Linked DNA regions of Homo sapiens: all the other regions are linked to region 1. Evidence: fine-mapped expression QTL. A gene starts in region 1. Each other region holds a variant in brackets. All regions are shown on one strand. Distances are between the middles of the regions.

The links. PIP is the estimated chance that this variant, and not a neighbour inherited with it, causes the effect. A credible set is the group of variants that fine-mapping cannot tell apart.
Region 2: its variant is the best candidate, but not a certain one, in a credible set for the expression of TFAP2C in fibroblasts (GTEx, PIP 0.73).
Region 3: its variant is the best candidate, but not a certain one, in a credible set for the expression of TFAP2C in testis (GTEx, PIP 0.72).

Annotation. Positions count from the first base shown.
Region 1 is chr20:56,626,333-56,631,550 of GRCh38, forward strand. TFAP2C (transcription factor AP-2 gamma) reads left to right here and starts at 2,974. Exons shown (of 7, transcript NM_003222.4): 1 at 2,974-3,260; 2 at 4,873-5,218. The coding sequence starts at 3,213. RefSeq lists an enhancer at 761-1,521 and silencers at 2,885-2,944, 3,001-3,295.
Region 2 is chr20:56,786,593-56,791,810 of GRCh38, forward strand. No RefSeq gene overlaps it. Among named protein-coding and RNA genes, the nearest start is that of TFAP2C, 160 kb to the left of the region's middle. RefSeq lists enhancers at 1,769-2,528, 2,529-3,287. The variant T/C (reference allele first, on the strand shown) is at 2,710.
Region 3 is chr20:56,949,719-56,954,936 of GRCh38, forward strand. No RefSeq gene overlaps it. Among named protein-coding and RNA genes, the nearest start is that of BMP7-AS1, 260 kb to the right of the region's middle. The variant G/A (reference allele first, on the strand shown) is at 2,835.

The DNA.
Region 1 (5,218 bases):
TCTGCCACTTACTGAGGTCCCTACCGGCGCTCACGTTGTCCCGAGAGGCGGGACAAACGTCCGGCGCGTGGCGCGGAGTCTGCGAAAGCGCTCGGGGGCCTCCATCTTCTGCTCGGGAGTCCCCTCCCTGGGGCGGGAAGAGGAGTCGCAGATCTGCCCGAATCTTGCTCTACCCGCCTGGCCGCCTTCTTCCGTCTGGGGTGGGGGCAGGGGTGGCGGATGACTCAGGCCTGGGGCCGGGAGCCCTGTTTCCAAAGGCACCACCTCGCGCCTCTTTGGAAGTGGCGCGCTGTTGGGGCGCTCCCGCTGTTGCAGAGGCCTGGTTTGCGGTTTCATAGGGGCGTGGGTCCAGGGCTTCCAGGGAGTAAGTGAGTTTAGGCTCCCTAGGGGGCGGTAGAGGGGAACCCCCGACAACCTTCCATCCTCTTCTCCAGGCGGCTGCGAGGCCTCCGGGGTTCCAGAGGGGTCCCCTTCTGCCGGTGCCGGCTGTCTTGAGCGCGGCCACGCAGTCCGCGTCTTCACGTGGGCAAGGGGCGGGGACGTTGGAGGGAGGCTGTCTTGGATGCTGGAGCCTTCGGTTCCCGGCTCTGCTGAGCAGAAAAGTTGAAGTCAAGGAAGGGTTGAGGCTTCCTCACAAGGGCGCGCGCGTGCCTGGGTGCCGGCCCAGAAGCCGAGAATGTGCGTATTGGGGAAGGGTCTCCCGTGCCGAGAAGACAGAGGATTTGTTCTAGCTGCCTTCCGTACAGAGGGCGCGGAGGTTGCGCTCCAGTTCGAACGCTTACCCATTGGAAAGAGGGCAGCGCCGGGGTCCAGGGAAGCTCCTTGGGAATGAATGGCCTTTGCCAAGCGGTTCCGGATCCTCTGGGTCCTTTGGGCCCACGGCACGGTGCTGCGCGAGCCCTCAGTGCCCATCGGCTCCCTTCGCCTCCTGCGTAGACGCTCCCAGGCGGGGAGGCATATCGGTTCCTCCGGGCAGCTTTGGCTAGTGTTGCTGTGGGAAAGGAGAGCCAGGGCCTGGGATGGGGGATGAGCACCTTCTTGCCCATTCCGGGCCCCAGCGTGCAGGAGGTAAACTTGCCAGCACAGACAAGACAGCTTGTTCAAGCTGCACCTCAGGCCGGGTCAGAGAATAAAACCGAGGGCTAGAAGGCCCAGAATGTCGGACAGCCCAGCGGCACCCGTCAGGGAGTCCCAGGCGCCCGAAAGAGGCGCCGCACCTCTGGCGAGTCTAGGACCCATCTTCCTGGACCTGTGCTCTGGAGTGCCTGCGGGCCTGGGTCTAATTTCTGCTTCTGGCAGGTGTCCCCCTCCCCCGCCGCTAATACCAGGAGCGCTGCTTCTGCGGTAACTTATTTTACCCCCAGAAGCCTGTTTTGGGACCGAAGTGTCAGGGTCCTGTGTGTCTTTTTATGCACTGTTCTCCTTAGTGCAAAGCCCTGCAGATATGCTTGGCCGAAAAGTCTCAGTGGTTTCAACTTCCAGATTTTGTTCCCGCGTCCGGTCGGAAAATCACCTGGGATTTGGCTGCTGTCTAAGGCCGGGGGAAAGTTTCCCTTGGAGGACGCCTATTATTATTATTTTCTTTTAGGCCCACCTGGGTCTAAATAAATGCTAAAGTTCAAACGAACCCGAGAAGGAACAGCGAGGCAGTGGATGCCGCCATTCCGTGGATGGGAGAGTCATGTCTACTGCAGGTGCGGACACCGTACTGATAGGCATTGATTATTGCAAAATCGTATTCAGTATCAAATAGAAATAGTCTTGTCCTCTAATCCCCACAGAATGTTTAAATCCAGCCCAGGGAGCCAGTTGGGGCGTCCCAACAAATACGCCCTCGAGAATTAGCGATGTTCCCCTTACAATGAAAGTCAATTGCTGCATAATAACTGGGCCAAAGAATTTCGTTAGTTTAAATTTTAAAAATTAGTATTGCACTTTGCTTTCAAGTTTGGGTGGCAAGTACCGAAGGGGAGAGGGAAGCAGCGTTTGTGTGGAAGGAAGTTTCGTTTTCTGTCTAAACATGTGGGACCTGGGTGTCTACCTCTCCAGTCGAGAGCTCTCTGCAGGCTCTCTCCCAACTTCCTGCACCTCCTCACCCTCACCTTACCCGTGGCGCTCGGGTTTTATTCCTGCCCGGCGCTTCTTTCCCAGGGCGAGTAGAGGCTTCTGAGTGACCGGCCCGCCAGAGGCAGCTGCAGAGCCGGCGTTCCGCAGGGCAGGGCAGGGCCGGGCCGCTGGGCTGGTCCAGTGCGCGCGGGTTCCCCCTGGCCTCAGCCAGCCGCGGGAGATGCCACTTCGGGCGACAGCGGCGAGACGCCGCTGTCCGCAACTCCTGGGCGGGTAGGACCGTCTGCTGCCTCTGCGGCCCTTGGGGCAGACTCCCCAGGAGTCCCTTCCTCTCTCCTCCCGCCCGGGGGCCGGGACCGCGCTGTGCCCACGGAGGGAACTGGGCGTCTCTGGCGCACTGGGGCTCCAGCTGCATGATCCCAGCTCAGACCTTAAGCCTCAGTGGGGTGTAGGTGGGATGGGATGTGTTTTTAGGAGATGAGGAGACCCCGGTTGTTGAGTCGCTCCCCAAATGCGCAGTTTCTTAACTCCAGGTGACATCCGTCTTTTGGAGGAACGAGTGAAGGCCGTTTAGGCGAAAGAGGGGTGGGTTTCAGTATTTGGATCCCTTCCCCCAGCTCTGCCAATCTCAGGTGTGTTTACGGTGGAGGTGACAGAAGGAAGGCGCGTCGGGGGACCCAGGCCTCGCAGGTCTTCGGCTGTCAACGAGGCACCGCCCACTGACTCCGCGCTTCGTCCCTCACAGCGTGGGGCTCGGCGCTGCGCCAGGCCCGGGTGCGGGGCGGAGCTAGGCTGGGACTGGCTGGGGGCCGCCCCGCCCGGCGCCTGGGCCTCCGCGCCGGCCCCCGGGGAGGAGTTATGATAATTTCCTTCTCATTAAGGCGCTCGGGTCCCCCGGCTATCGCCAGGACACACTGTTCGGGCGCGGCTTTCCCCGTCCGCGGAGCGGTCTTGACACTCGCGGCGGCAGCATCTACGCTCGCAGAGCCGCCGATGCGTGTCCAGTGACCCGGACAGCAAGGCCCGCGCGCGGCGGGGGCGGCGGCAGACGCCTGGTCACCGTGACCCCGATTTTGGATTTACCGCTTGGGGGCTGGGGGGATCCTGGATTTAACTGGCGACTGTTTTGGGGGACGCCGGACGCCATGTTGTGGAAAATAACCGATAATGTCAAGTACGAAGAGGACTGCGAGGTGAGCTGGGGCTCCGGGGTGCAGCCCCGCCCCGCCGAGGACAGTCCGGGAGGCAGGGGCCACTGGACCGAGGTCGGGGACGAGGGCATAGGAGCCCTGGCCTCTCGGTGGGACGGGATCCACTTCTCCGGACACCCCTTAGTCCATTTCTGCGGGGCCCCTTTCCTGTATAGGGCCTTTTCCTAAATAGCCTCCCCTCGGGAACGAGGCCTGGAAAGAGAATGGCAAATCCCACCCACACAGCTTACCGGGCGCTTTCCTAAGCGGCAAACAGCCCTGCTTCCCGTTTTCTCGGAAAAGTGCCCCGTCTGCAACCCTCAGACGTGGCTTTTACGCACGAAGTCTCTGTCCAAAGGGGTCAGATGAGGCTACCTGCTAGCGACACCTTGGCGGACACTCCTCCAAGGCCGGCTTGTCACCTGCCCCGCTACCTCCTCGGGGAAGCACGAAAACAACCGAAGTTTGGCTTTCAAAAGAAGTGGGGGCTGGGGAGTGGTGGTGGGGGTGCCCGAGGCCAGATGGGGCCGTAAGAGCTCGCGAGTGCTCCAGCCTGTCGGACAGGTTGAGCTAGAGTTTCGGAGAGTGGGAGGGAAGAAGGAGGCGGCGAGCGGGAAGAGGAAGAAGACGCAGGCAGCGCTAGGCGAGCTCAGGGGCGCCGGGAGCGCGGAGCTCGGGCTACGGACTCGCGGGAGTTCACTGCGCCTCCGGGCCCTGGAGGGCTGCCCCTGCCCGCAGGCCCGGGCGCTTCCGCCAGGAGGCGACAGCGCCATGTTCCTCCAGGTTCCCGGCGCCCCGAGACCCCTGGGCAGATGGGGACGCATCCTTTAGAAACTGAGTCGGGCCGCCCAGGGGCGAGGGAACGTGCGCGGGCAAGGCTGCCCAATTTCCAGGGTTCTTCATGCCCCCTCTGCGCCCCGACGTGCGAGAACACTGCCCTTGGCAGTGCAGGGCGCCCCCACTTATTACTCCCCTCGGCTGGGCCCGGCCAGCAGGGAGGGCCGCCCTGTGCGCGCGCTCCCTCTTCACTTCCCAGGGCGGCGCAGGGTGGCGGGCCCTGCTTTCCGAGCGCCGCCCGCTCGGAGGTCTTTGTCCCGAGGGCGTGGAAGGGAGGGTCCCGGGGGCGGGGGAGGTGCGCATTTCCCGCGCCGCGCACTCTATCCGCGCCTGCCGCGCTGCCACCTCCAGCAGTCCCTGCGTCATGGGCGGGCTCCACGAGATAGCTCTGCACCGGGCGTCCGGCTCCTTCGCCCCGGGCTCTGGCTCCTTCGCCCCGGGCTCCGGCCACGGACTTTTCTGGCCCAAGACCCAGGGTTCGGACTTGGCGCCTCCAAGCGCCTCGGGCTTGGGAGCAGCGCCTAGACCTTCGCCGCCGGGCTTTGAGAACTCGTTCCCCCAGGTCTTTCACCAGACTCTCCTCCCTCCCCGCACTCTTTGCTTACAACGAAATCCTCGGGGCGCATTGCCCCCGGGTACCTTCCGACCCTGGGCAAGCCCCGCCGGGCGGGGTGCGGTTGGTCCCCCGGGGCCCTCTGCGTAGCCCGGCGATGCCGGCCAGTTCGCAGTAGCGGGGTTTCGCACTAACGGGGTCTCCTGTTTTTTTTTTTCCCTCCAGGATCGCCACGACGGGAGCAGCAATGGGAATCCGCGGGTCCCCCACCTCTCCTCCGCCGGGCAGCACCTCTACAGCCCCGCGCCACCCCTCTCCCACACTGGAGTCGCCGAATATCAGCCGCCACCCTACTTTCCCCCTCCCTACCAGCAGCTGGCCTACTCCCAGTCGGCCGACCCCTACTCGCATCTGGGGGAAGCGTACGCCGCCGCCATCAACCCCCTGCACCAGCCGGCGCCCACAGGCAGCCAGCAGCAGGCCTGGCCCGGCCGCCAGAGCCAGGAGGGAGCGGGGCTGCCCTCGCACCACGGGCGCCCGGCCGGCCTACTGCCCCACCTCTCCGGGCTGG
Region 2 (5,218 bases), 160 kb after region 1:
ACATAAAGATTTGACTATATGAACATTAACAATCCCTGGACGTCAAGAAACACCACAAATAAAATTAAAAGACAAAGAACAGACTAGGAACAATGTTTTCAACAATTACGTCATTCAGCCTCCCGACTCAGCCAATGGGTGGATGATTCCTGACTTTCCTCCCCCAGAGGGGTGGGGAAGGTGCAAGGTGACTTGGGAAGACAGCCAGCTTGGGGCACAGGGAAGGTGCTCAGTCGAGGCTTTTCATTTTCTTGAATGAATGAATGAGTGAGTGAATGAATGATGAAATCTGCATCCTAGGTACTGTGTATCTTCCTTTGAATTCTGCCCCATTTATTTTTATTTTTATTTTTATTGTTATTATTATTTTTGAGATGGAGTCTCCCTCTGTCACCCAAGCTGGAGTGTGGTGGCGCAATGTCAGCTCACTGTGACCTCCACCTCCCACGTTCAAGCGATTCTCCTGCCTCAGCCTCTTGAGTAGCCGGGACTACAGGTGTCTGCCACTGAGCCTGGCTAATTTTTGTATTTTTTGTAGAGACGGGGTTTCACCATATTGGCCAGGCTGGTCTTGAACTCTTGACCTCAGGTGATCCACCTGCCTCAGCCTCCCAAAGTGCTGGGATTACAGGCGTGAGCCACAACGACGGCCTATTTTTATTTTTATTTATTTATTTTTTAGATGGAATCTTGCTCTGTCGCCCAGGCTGGAGCGCGGTGGCGCAATCTCGGCTCACTGCAACTTGCACCTTCTGGTTCAAGTGATTCTCCTGCCTCAGGCTCCTGCGTAGCTGGGATTACAGGCGCCACTACCACACCCGGCTAATTTTGTGTATTTTTAGTAGAGACAGGGTTTCACCATGTTGGCCAGGCTGGTCTCGAACTCCTGACCTCAAGTGATCTACCTGCCTCAGCCTCCCAAAGTGCTGGGATTACAGGTGCGAGCCACTGAATTCTGCCCTATTTAAATGAAGAGAAGACAGATCCTCGACCACAAAGAGAAAGTGGTTCGCTTCTGTTGCTTACTGTGGGGTTGGCGCTGTGGAACGTCCCAGCCTCCTCTGAATTCATCTGGAAAACGGGTTTAAAAATTCTTACTTCCCTGCCTCCTGCCTCCTCCCTAGAACGGACGTCAGTTGGGATGAATCAGAGCCTCGGTATTTTGGCTCAGCCGTTGTTTTGGCAATAAGAATGATTAAACAGATAGTTTATTTATTTTACTCTCATCTTCTGTACCCACATCTCTGGAAGAGCTGTGTTCATAGGTGTGGAGACAAGTAAAGAGCTTTCTGACGAGTCAGAAGCTGGTCATGGGAAGGAAATGAGGGCATCTCCTAGGTAAAGGAATTTTTATTTTCTCACTGGATTTCTTCTCACTTTAAACTGGTTCTTTTGTGTTCTTACTTGGCTGGGAATGTCTGGAAGTCAGCACTCCAGCTGCTGAACTCCAGAACTCAGAAAAGATGCACATAAATAGACTTTGGTTGCAGCATGAAATATTGGGTTAGACATCAAGAGGGACTTTCTAGTCAATGAGATTGTGTAGGCAGAGGAAGAAATGGAGGAAAATCATAAAACTTTCTACTCTGTGGGAAAGGTAGTTTTCTGGGAGGCACTCCAGCGCCTTTGGGTGAGACCTTGTGCCACGTTCCCGGAGGCCTGGGTGGCAGCAATGAAAGGAGGAAGTGAATGCAGCCCTGATGGCAGGCTACTGAGGACAACGCAGCACTGCTCTCCCATTTTACAGCTGCAGAAACCGAGGCAAGATCCTGCAACAAATATTTACAGAAGGTGTCTGCATGCCAGCCTTATTCTGAGTTCTGAGGACACCGCAGTGAGGGAGGCAGAGTACTAGCAAACAAGGTCATGAATATGGAATGTGATATTGTGCAATGATGGGGCTGGACAAGGAAGTGAGCGGTAGGGAGGGATGGAAGCTGCTGTTGAAAGAATGGTCAGGGAAGGCCTCTTTGGGGCAGGGTCATGTGAGATGAAATGACTCACCCAGGGTCATTTAGACCCCAGATACAATTGAGTCTGCTTCCCTGGCTCCTAGTCAGGGGTTCCTCCAGGGTGTTTTTGGGCCTAAGTAACAGAAAACCCAACTCAAAAAGGCTTACGCCAAGAAAAAAAAGTTTGTCTAAAAAAATCCAAGGGTAGAACTTGTTTCAGGAATGTCTTGATCCAGGATCTCAAATCACATTGCCAAGCCCTGCCCTCTCTTATGTCTCTGCCTCTTCCACAAGGGTTCTAACTCCCAGGCTCCCTGTGGGAGCAGGAAGGTGACAGTGTTTCCAGGCCCACGGCTCCCAGGTTCAAGCTGGCAAGAAAGAGCTGCTCCATCCTCATCCATTTGAACAAAAATGCTGGGCCTGACTCCCTCAGCCAGGTTTGGGTAACAGACCCGCTTTCTGAACCAATGGGAATAGCTAGGGGGATTTTCTGCATGGACTGGGCAGGCTGTGTCCCAGGCCCATCCTGGAGCCCTGGGCTGTGGGAAGGGAGGGAGCATCCCCAGGTGAAGTTTTGACCCTTGTTAGCAAAGGAGGAAGGATGATTCAGGCCGGCCCCAACCTAGCCATGAAAGTGCTGCCTGGCCCCCTCTCTGTACTGTGTCCACATCCATCATTTCCCCCAGGCTTTATTGAGCACCTGCTGTGTGCGTCCATCTCTGTTTCCCAGAGCTTAGACTTCAAGGTATAGGAATTG[T/C]TTTGTTTTCATTTTTTTTTATAATCCTCCAAGATCTTCCAGTCTACTTGAAGAAACAAAAGCCACATCCTGTTTTTTATCCTGTCTTTTTGTGGCTTGCTCATGGCATGAATTTTCTAGCTGTCAACAAAGGGAGGGGCGCTTTTGGGCTGGAGGAGTCAAGAGGCCTTCAGGAAAAAGGAGGGCTTTTGATACATTTTCTTTCTTTCCTTCCTTTCTTTCCTTCCTTCCTTTCTTTCTTTTCTTTCTTCTTTCTTCTTTCTTTCTTTTTTTTTTTTTTGAGACAGAGTCTTTCACTGTTACCTGGGCTGGAATGCAGTGGCCTGATCTCAGCTCACTGCAAACTTTGCCTTCTGGGTTCAAGTGATTCTCCTGCATCAGCCTCCCCAGTAGCTGGGATTACAGGTGTCTGCCACCACATCCAGCTAATTTTTTGTATTTTTAGTAGAGATGGGGTTTCACCATGTTGGCCAGGCTGGTCTCGAACTCCTGACCTCGTGATTTGCCCGCCTTGGCCTCCCAAAGTGTTGGGATTACAGGCGTGAGCCGCCACGCCTGGCCCAGTGCATTTTCAAGGGTGGCTTATATCAGGAGAAGGTTGACAGAGGCTAGAACTTGATAGTGCATGCAGGCTATGGTGAGCGGGACACACACCGTGTGATTATGACTTTTTGGGATGTGTGGTTAAAATGTGTGTAGTTCTTGAACCACTGAGGTTTATAAGATTATAAGGCAGGACACAGGCACATGTTTATCTTAGTAGTCAGGTATTTATTCCAAGTTTATGTTAGAAGCAACTATGTTATTAACTTATCAGACCTGGATAACATTGTTCAGGATGAAACTAAAATTAACAAAAAATAAAAGTGGCAGGGAGTCCATTTAAACAAATATCATACATATAGGTGGTAGCAGACATGGCAAAAATGTTGTTATGAGAATGAGTAAGGCTGGGCGCAGTTGCTCACGGCTGTAATCTCAGCACTTTGGGAGGTCAAGACGGGCGGATTGCTTAAGGTCAGGAGTTCGAGACCAGCCTGGCCAACATGGTGAAACCCCATCTCTACTAAAAATACAAACATTAGCCAGGCATGGTGGCGCATGCCTGTAATCTCAGCTACTCGGGAGGTTGAGGCAGGAGAATCACTTGAACCCAGGAGGCGGAGGTTGCAGTGAACAGCGGTCCCGACCCTGCACTCCAGCCTTGGTGACAGAGCAAGACTCCATCTCAAAAAAAAAAAAAAAAAAAAGTAAGTTTTGGGAAATGCTGGTCTAGCCCTCAGATTCTGGAAGCAGAAAGACATGGATTCAAATCTCAGACCCACCCCACATGTACAGTGAAGCTTTGGGCCAGCTGCTTCACCTTTCTAGCCCTCAGTTTTCTGACCAGTAAAATGGGGCTGAGAATGGGATAGGAGCAGTCTCACGGGAGATGTTCAGGAATCTCTGAGATGTGGTTATGTGAAATGCCTCTTCTCCAAGGGGACATTCAGTAAGTTAACTCTCCATAATCTGGATTATTTTTCCCAGGAAAGAAAGAAAAAAAAAAAAGGCCGTCCAGCTACATGTGCAGGAAGTGCAAGGGCCAGAGGTGGGAAGGAATGTGGCAGGTTAGGGAGACTGCTGCAGTGGGGTGGGGTGGTCCCTGCAGGAGAGAGCAGGGATGGTGTTGTGTCAGGGAGGAGAGGATTTGCAATTTTACAGGAAACCTATGGAGTAAATAAGCCTCCTCTGGGACTACATGTGGTACCTTGGAGGACGGGCTTACCTGTTTCACCCAAATCTCTTTTTGCTCCCAGCAGACCTCTGAGCGCCACTGTCCACCGCAGCCTGGGGCTGGGCTCATCTCTCCCCCATCCAGAGCTTTCTGTGCAGACAGATTCTGGTGAACCTGGGTTGGGCTCCATAGATTTAATCTATGTTGTTTATCTTTTAAACACCATTAACCACAAATTAGCTGATTCTTTTGTGGCTATAAATTAATAGATTCCATTAGTGAACAGCAAATTACAGGATGATTACTTTTCCTCCCTGAACTTGGAGCTTTTTTTTATAGCTTTTTGAGAGGGTTTGGTTCTGTCCTCTTCCTGCTGCCGCTTTCCTATCTAGGTTCTTTGTTCATTGGACCAAATCTTCTGAATGGCCCGGGAGGCTGAGAGTGGGTGACATGGACTATCTTTGTAATGAGGTTATAAGCCTGTTCGCTTTGCAGAAGCAAAACTGACTGGAGGTTTGTTTTCAAGAGAATTTTTGTTTCAATCACAGACCAAACCAGCAAAGTTGCCACCTCCTTTTACTCCTGCGTATAACATAAACACATCGTATTTGCTTTTTCTTCCATAGCTTTGTTACTTCTGAGGCCTCATTCTGGTAAATACTGGATAATCTTTTCTTTCTATCCATCTGTCTATCCATCCATCGATTCCCTTATCCATCCATCCTCCTCTATCCATCTGTCCACCCATCCATTCATCTACCCTTCCTCCCTCCCTCCCTTCTTTCCTTCCTT
Region 3 (5,218 bases), 320 kb after region 1:
TGGTGTTAACCACCCTGTGTCCTGCTGCTTCTGGTACCCAGATCAGATTTCTCTTTTCTCTGCAGGGAGGAAGCACACATCCTCTTCACTGCGTATTCTTTCTTCTTCTTCACACCGTCCCCAGTTATTGGAGTGCTGCAGAAAACGTGTAGCCAGGCACATGTCAATGACACGTTTCAGCAGGGTGCCTCCTCAGATATGGGATTTCCAGGTCAAGCAGTGTGTGATTCTGATATTTGCTGAAATTGCCCTCTAGGTTAATCTGTATTTAAATCGAATCCTGAAGCAGAAATGGTCAAAACAATTCTTGGTTATACTTATTTAGAAGACATGGGCAATGAATGAAACCAAACAAACAAACAAAATCTCTTCCCCCAAGCCCCTAACCCCTCAGCTGGAATTCACGGAGCTCTGCTGAATTATTGCTGGTTTTTAAATCACTGAATGTGGTTTGTGGAATTGTTCTCATAAATGGCAAAAATGTAACAAATGCATACATAGTAACCAAGTAAATTGGCCTGTTAAGAAATAAAAAGGGTAATTAAAAGGGTACTCACAGTTCCAATCTGAAATAATATGATGAGAAGATTTTTAAAACTACCATTTGTTGAGAGCTGTGATGTACAGAGTCTTCAGATGCATCTGATTTAATCTTCCTAGCAACTCCCAGGAACAGAGGCCATTATTATCCCCCATTTTACAGACAAGAAGAACGAAGTTTACAGGGAAAGTGGCTTGCAGGGTTGGGTTTTGGACTACACGCAGCCTCTAAAATCTCTCTCAAGGTACCTGCTTCTTCATAAGCTTCACATTCTCTTTAAAAGATACTCACAAAGAACATGAATGCTTTCTTTTGTAATATCAAAAGTAATAAACATAAAAAAACTAGCTGGGGGTGTGTGTGCTATGTGCCTGTGGGCCCAACTACTCAGGAGGCTGAGGCGGGAGGATCACTTGACCTCAGGAGATGGAGGCTGCAGTGAGCCGTGATCATATCGTGCTGTTGCACTCCATCCTGAGCAACAAAGCAAGGCTCTGTCAGAAGAAAGAAAGAGAGAAAGAGAAGAAAGAAAGAGAAGAGAGAAAGAGAAGAAAGAGAGAAAGGAGAAAAGGAAAGAAAGAGAGAAAGAAAGAAAGAAAAAAGAAAGAAAGAAAGAAAGAAAGAAAGAAAGAAAGAAAGAAAGAAAGAAAGAAAGAGAAAGAAAGAAAAAAGAAAAGAAAGGAAGGGAGGGGAAGGGAACGGAAGGGAAGGGAGGGGGAGGGGAGGGGGATGGGGGAGAGAAGGGGAAGGGGAGAAAGAAAGAAGAAGGAAAGAAAGAAAGAGAAAGAAAGTGATAGAGATGAAGAGAGTGTCATCTTCACACAATGAAGAAAGGAGTGATTAGATCACAAACTTGGCCTTCCAGCCAGGCAACCCCACCTTCAGGACTTTCTCCCTCTGTGCATATCTGGTCTTCTGGTGTGGTTCCTGCACACATGGCTTCGGTCCTCCACACCACTGCCTGAGTGCGAGGTGCTCTGGGGTAGAGATGAAACGGCAGTATGCCCTACAACCTGCCCCTGCTCAAACAAAGGGCGGTTTTCACTTGCAAATGGTGGCTCCAGATTGACCAAAAATTAAAAAGCAGAAAAGCAAGAGTTGGCCAGTTTGCAATGGAAAAACCACTCTCTGAACATCGGAAACATTCTGTGCAGTGTTAAAGAGCATTCTCCTAAATGAAGAATTGACTTGTCTGTTTAATGTAGCTTTTTCTTGATTTTTCTTGATGCCACTCATAGCAAGTGGTATTTTTCAAAAATTATGATCTGTCTGAAACTGATACACTCAGGCTTGGTGGTTGGACTGGCCACTGATAATTGGAAACAGGAACTGTGCAAGCGGCATTCTTCAAGGGAAGAGCAAGGAAAGGCAAACACACACATTCCCGGAGGACTTGTGACAAACAAGGATGGCTCGGGTCTGGTTTTCAACCCACAGGCTCAAGACTTTTATTCCTTTTGAATTTAAAAGACCAGATGTTGGTGAGTATTGGATGTCCAATGTCACTGTCAACTGCCAAGAATGTCCAGTTTTTTGTTTTTTTTTTTGACAGGGTCTTGCTCTATTGCCCAGGCTGGAGTGCAGTGACGTGATCACAGCTCACTGCAGCCTCCACCTCCCGGGCTCAAGTGATCCTCCCACCTCAGCACCACCCCCTTACACCCCACAGTAGCTGAGACTACAGGCACATGCCACTGTGCCCAGCTAATTTTTGTGTAGATGGGGTTTCGCCATGTTTCCCAGGCGGGTCTTGAACTCCTAGGTTCAAGCAGTCTTTCTGCCCCAGCCTCCCAAAGTGCTAGGATTCCAGGCATGAGCCACCATGCCCAGCCGATGTCCAGTTGTTGCAGCAAGTCCTGAGAGGCAACAAGGTGGGCAGAACTTCCTCTAGAAGCTGAAAATGGCTTCTCCCTAGAACCTCCAGAAAAGAACACAGCCCTGCTGATCCTTGATTATAGCCCAATGAGATACATTTCAGACTTCTGGCCTCCAGAATGGGAAGATAATACAATAGTGTTGTTTTAGTCTATGAAACTTTTAGTGAAGTGTTAGAGCAGCTCTGGGAAATGACCAGCATAACTGAGGCACTGGGCAAGTTGATTACTTTTCTGGATTCCCTTTTCTTTTCATTTGTAAACTCGTATAATCTAAGGGAAGTGTGTATATTTCCTTACCGTCTTTTACCATCACGTGACAACAAGTTGGTGCAAAAATTCTTCTTTGATTGCAACACTGGGTAGAATAAAAAAACAAAAACTATGTAAAACAGAAAATCGGTTCTTGCAAAAAGGAA[G/A]CAAATTGAAACATAGAACGTTTGAGTTTCATTTAGAATTGTAAAAGCATGGCATTCCAATGCTCTCCTCCCATGAGCATCTGCAAACTACGGCGCCGAGCTAGGAGAACAGAGTCTCCCGTTCTACATTTCAAATGTGAGCACAGTCTGTCAAAGGTAAATCACACACTTCCATCGGCTGGCATTTTTCAAAAGATCAATTATGTACTGACATCTCCGTGCATATAGGCACAGGATTATTTACAGCCACCACGCGAGGCTGAGACGTAGTGAGAATCTGGCCCTAAGCACAGTACAGAAATTCATACTCAGACGGCTGAGGAACGAAGGCAGTTCTGGAAGCTCAGTGGACTGTCAGAGCTTCTGCCTTACAGTGGCCGGTGCGTGGTGGAGCTGCCCACACCACAGGTGGCCCTTTCCCGTCCTCTCTTTCCCCTCCCAGATCTGCTGTTAGTTTCCCAGCCTGGGGCTTCCCACTGCCCACTTCCACCCAGGACGAGGGACGGGAAGGCTCTCAGGGAGCCGCCAAGTCAGTCCAACCCAAACACCTGTCAGAGAAACTCGGCTCATCAACAGGAGTCCACGTGATGGCTTAAAAACAGTCTGTGCTGGCTCATGACACGCGAGGCATAAATTAAATCATAACTGAGCATGCTGTTGACAGCACGTGATGACAGGTGTTGTGAATGAGTTGGCGCAGGGGCCACTGCCCTGCCTCGCGACTGTCAGTCATGGCCACTCCTCGCTCCTCTCCCGCTGAAGGGGATGGCTTGTCTAGCGATGAGGGGAGAGCCATTCGAGGTATCCGGGGTGGGAATTGGCTCGGGCATGTCTCATTCTCCACAGATGGCATCGGAGCCCCGTGGTGTCAGCGCATCTCCCACCAGTGGCTGGGCCGAAGCCTCTCTCAGGTGTGCAGTCCTGGGGCCCTGGGCCCGTTCACCCATGCAGGGAGCTCTTCTCCCGGCACCCTAGTGTCCACACCCGTCCCAGGTTCCTCAGCTGCAGTGCACACAGTGAAGGCACCAGCAAAGCAGGGACAGCCAGGAACAGAGCAAAACCATAGGGAAATGCATTGATGAGCGATATTTCCAAAATCAAAGGTCTCGGCCGGGCACCGTGGCTCACACCTGTAGTCTTAGCACGTTGGGAGGCTGAGATGGGAAGATTGCTTGAGCCCAGGAGTTGGAGACCAGTCTGGGCAAGAGAGCAAGACCCTGTCTCTATAAAAAATAAAAAATTAATAAAAATTAGCCAGGCTTGGTGGTGGTGCACCTATAGTCCCAGTTACTAGGGAGGCTGAGGCAGGAGGATCCCTGGAGTCCAGGAGTTTGAGGTTACAGTGAGCTAGGATCACACCACTGCACTTCAGCCCAGGTGACAGAGACCCTACTTCTAAAAATAAATATATATGGCGGGGCTCCATAGCTCATGCCTGCAATCCCAGCACTTTGGGAGGCTGAGGCGGGCAGATCACTTGAGGTCAGAAGATCGAGATCATCCTGGCCAACATGATGAAACCTTGTCTCTTCTAAAAATACAAAAATTAGCTGGGCATGGTGGCGCACGCCTGTCATTTCAGCTACTTGGGAGGCTGAGGCAGGAGAATCGCTTGAATCCGGGAGGCAGAGGTTGCAGTGAGCTAAGATCACGCCACTGCATTCTAGCCTGGTGACAGAGCAAGACTCCGTCTCAAAATATAAATAAAAATAAAGAAATAAAAATAAAAATATATAAAAGGTCTCCAAGTAGTGGAACATTTCAGAACTTTGTTGGACTTCCTATTTATGTTATGAATGATTACAGTTTTTTGAAATTGCCTATGGCAGAAAAACCGTAGTCCTTAGATTGTTTCTGAAAATGCCTTCTAGTCTGAGAAACCCCAAACCCAGACTCCACTTCACTTCCATTCTCACTGTCAGGATGGCTTCTCCCTGGGAAACCCGTAAGTCTTCTCATTCCTTCTTCCCAAACAGCCCCCACTAGGCTGCCTTTCACCAGGCCGCCTTCTAACCCCAACTTTCAGGTCCAATTCCAAAGCTCCCTCTCCCAAGAGCCCTCCGTGAACGTCCTGGTGAAAACTGGCCTGCGCCGTGGCTACCACGCATCATCCCGCCCATTTTGACCATAGCACTTGTCACAATCTGAAGTTGTCCTGGTGAAATCTGCGGGCTCATCGTCTTCCACGAAGCCCCTGGATGGCAGGGATCCCACCCAGCTTGCTCGTGACAGTCCCCTACCCTGGCCCTGCACCTGGCGTGAAGGATAAGCTCTGCGGACGTTCCCGGAGTGAAATGAGTGGATATGTAAACCAAACGCGCCCGGGTGCCCTGGGCATCTTCTGTGCCCGACCCCAGTCATCGCTCCTCTGCTCTGTGCCTTCA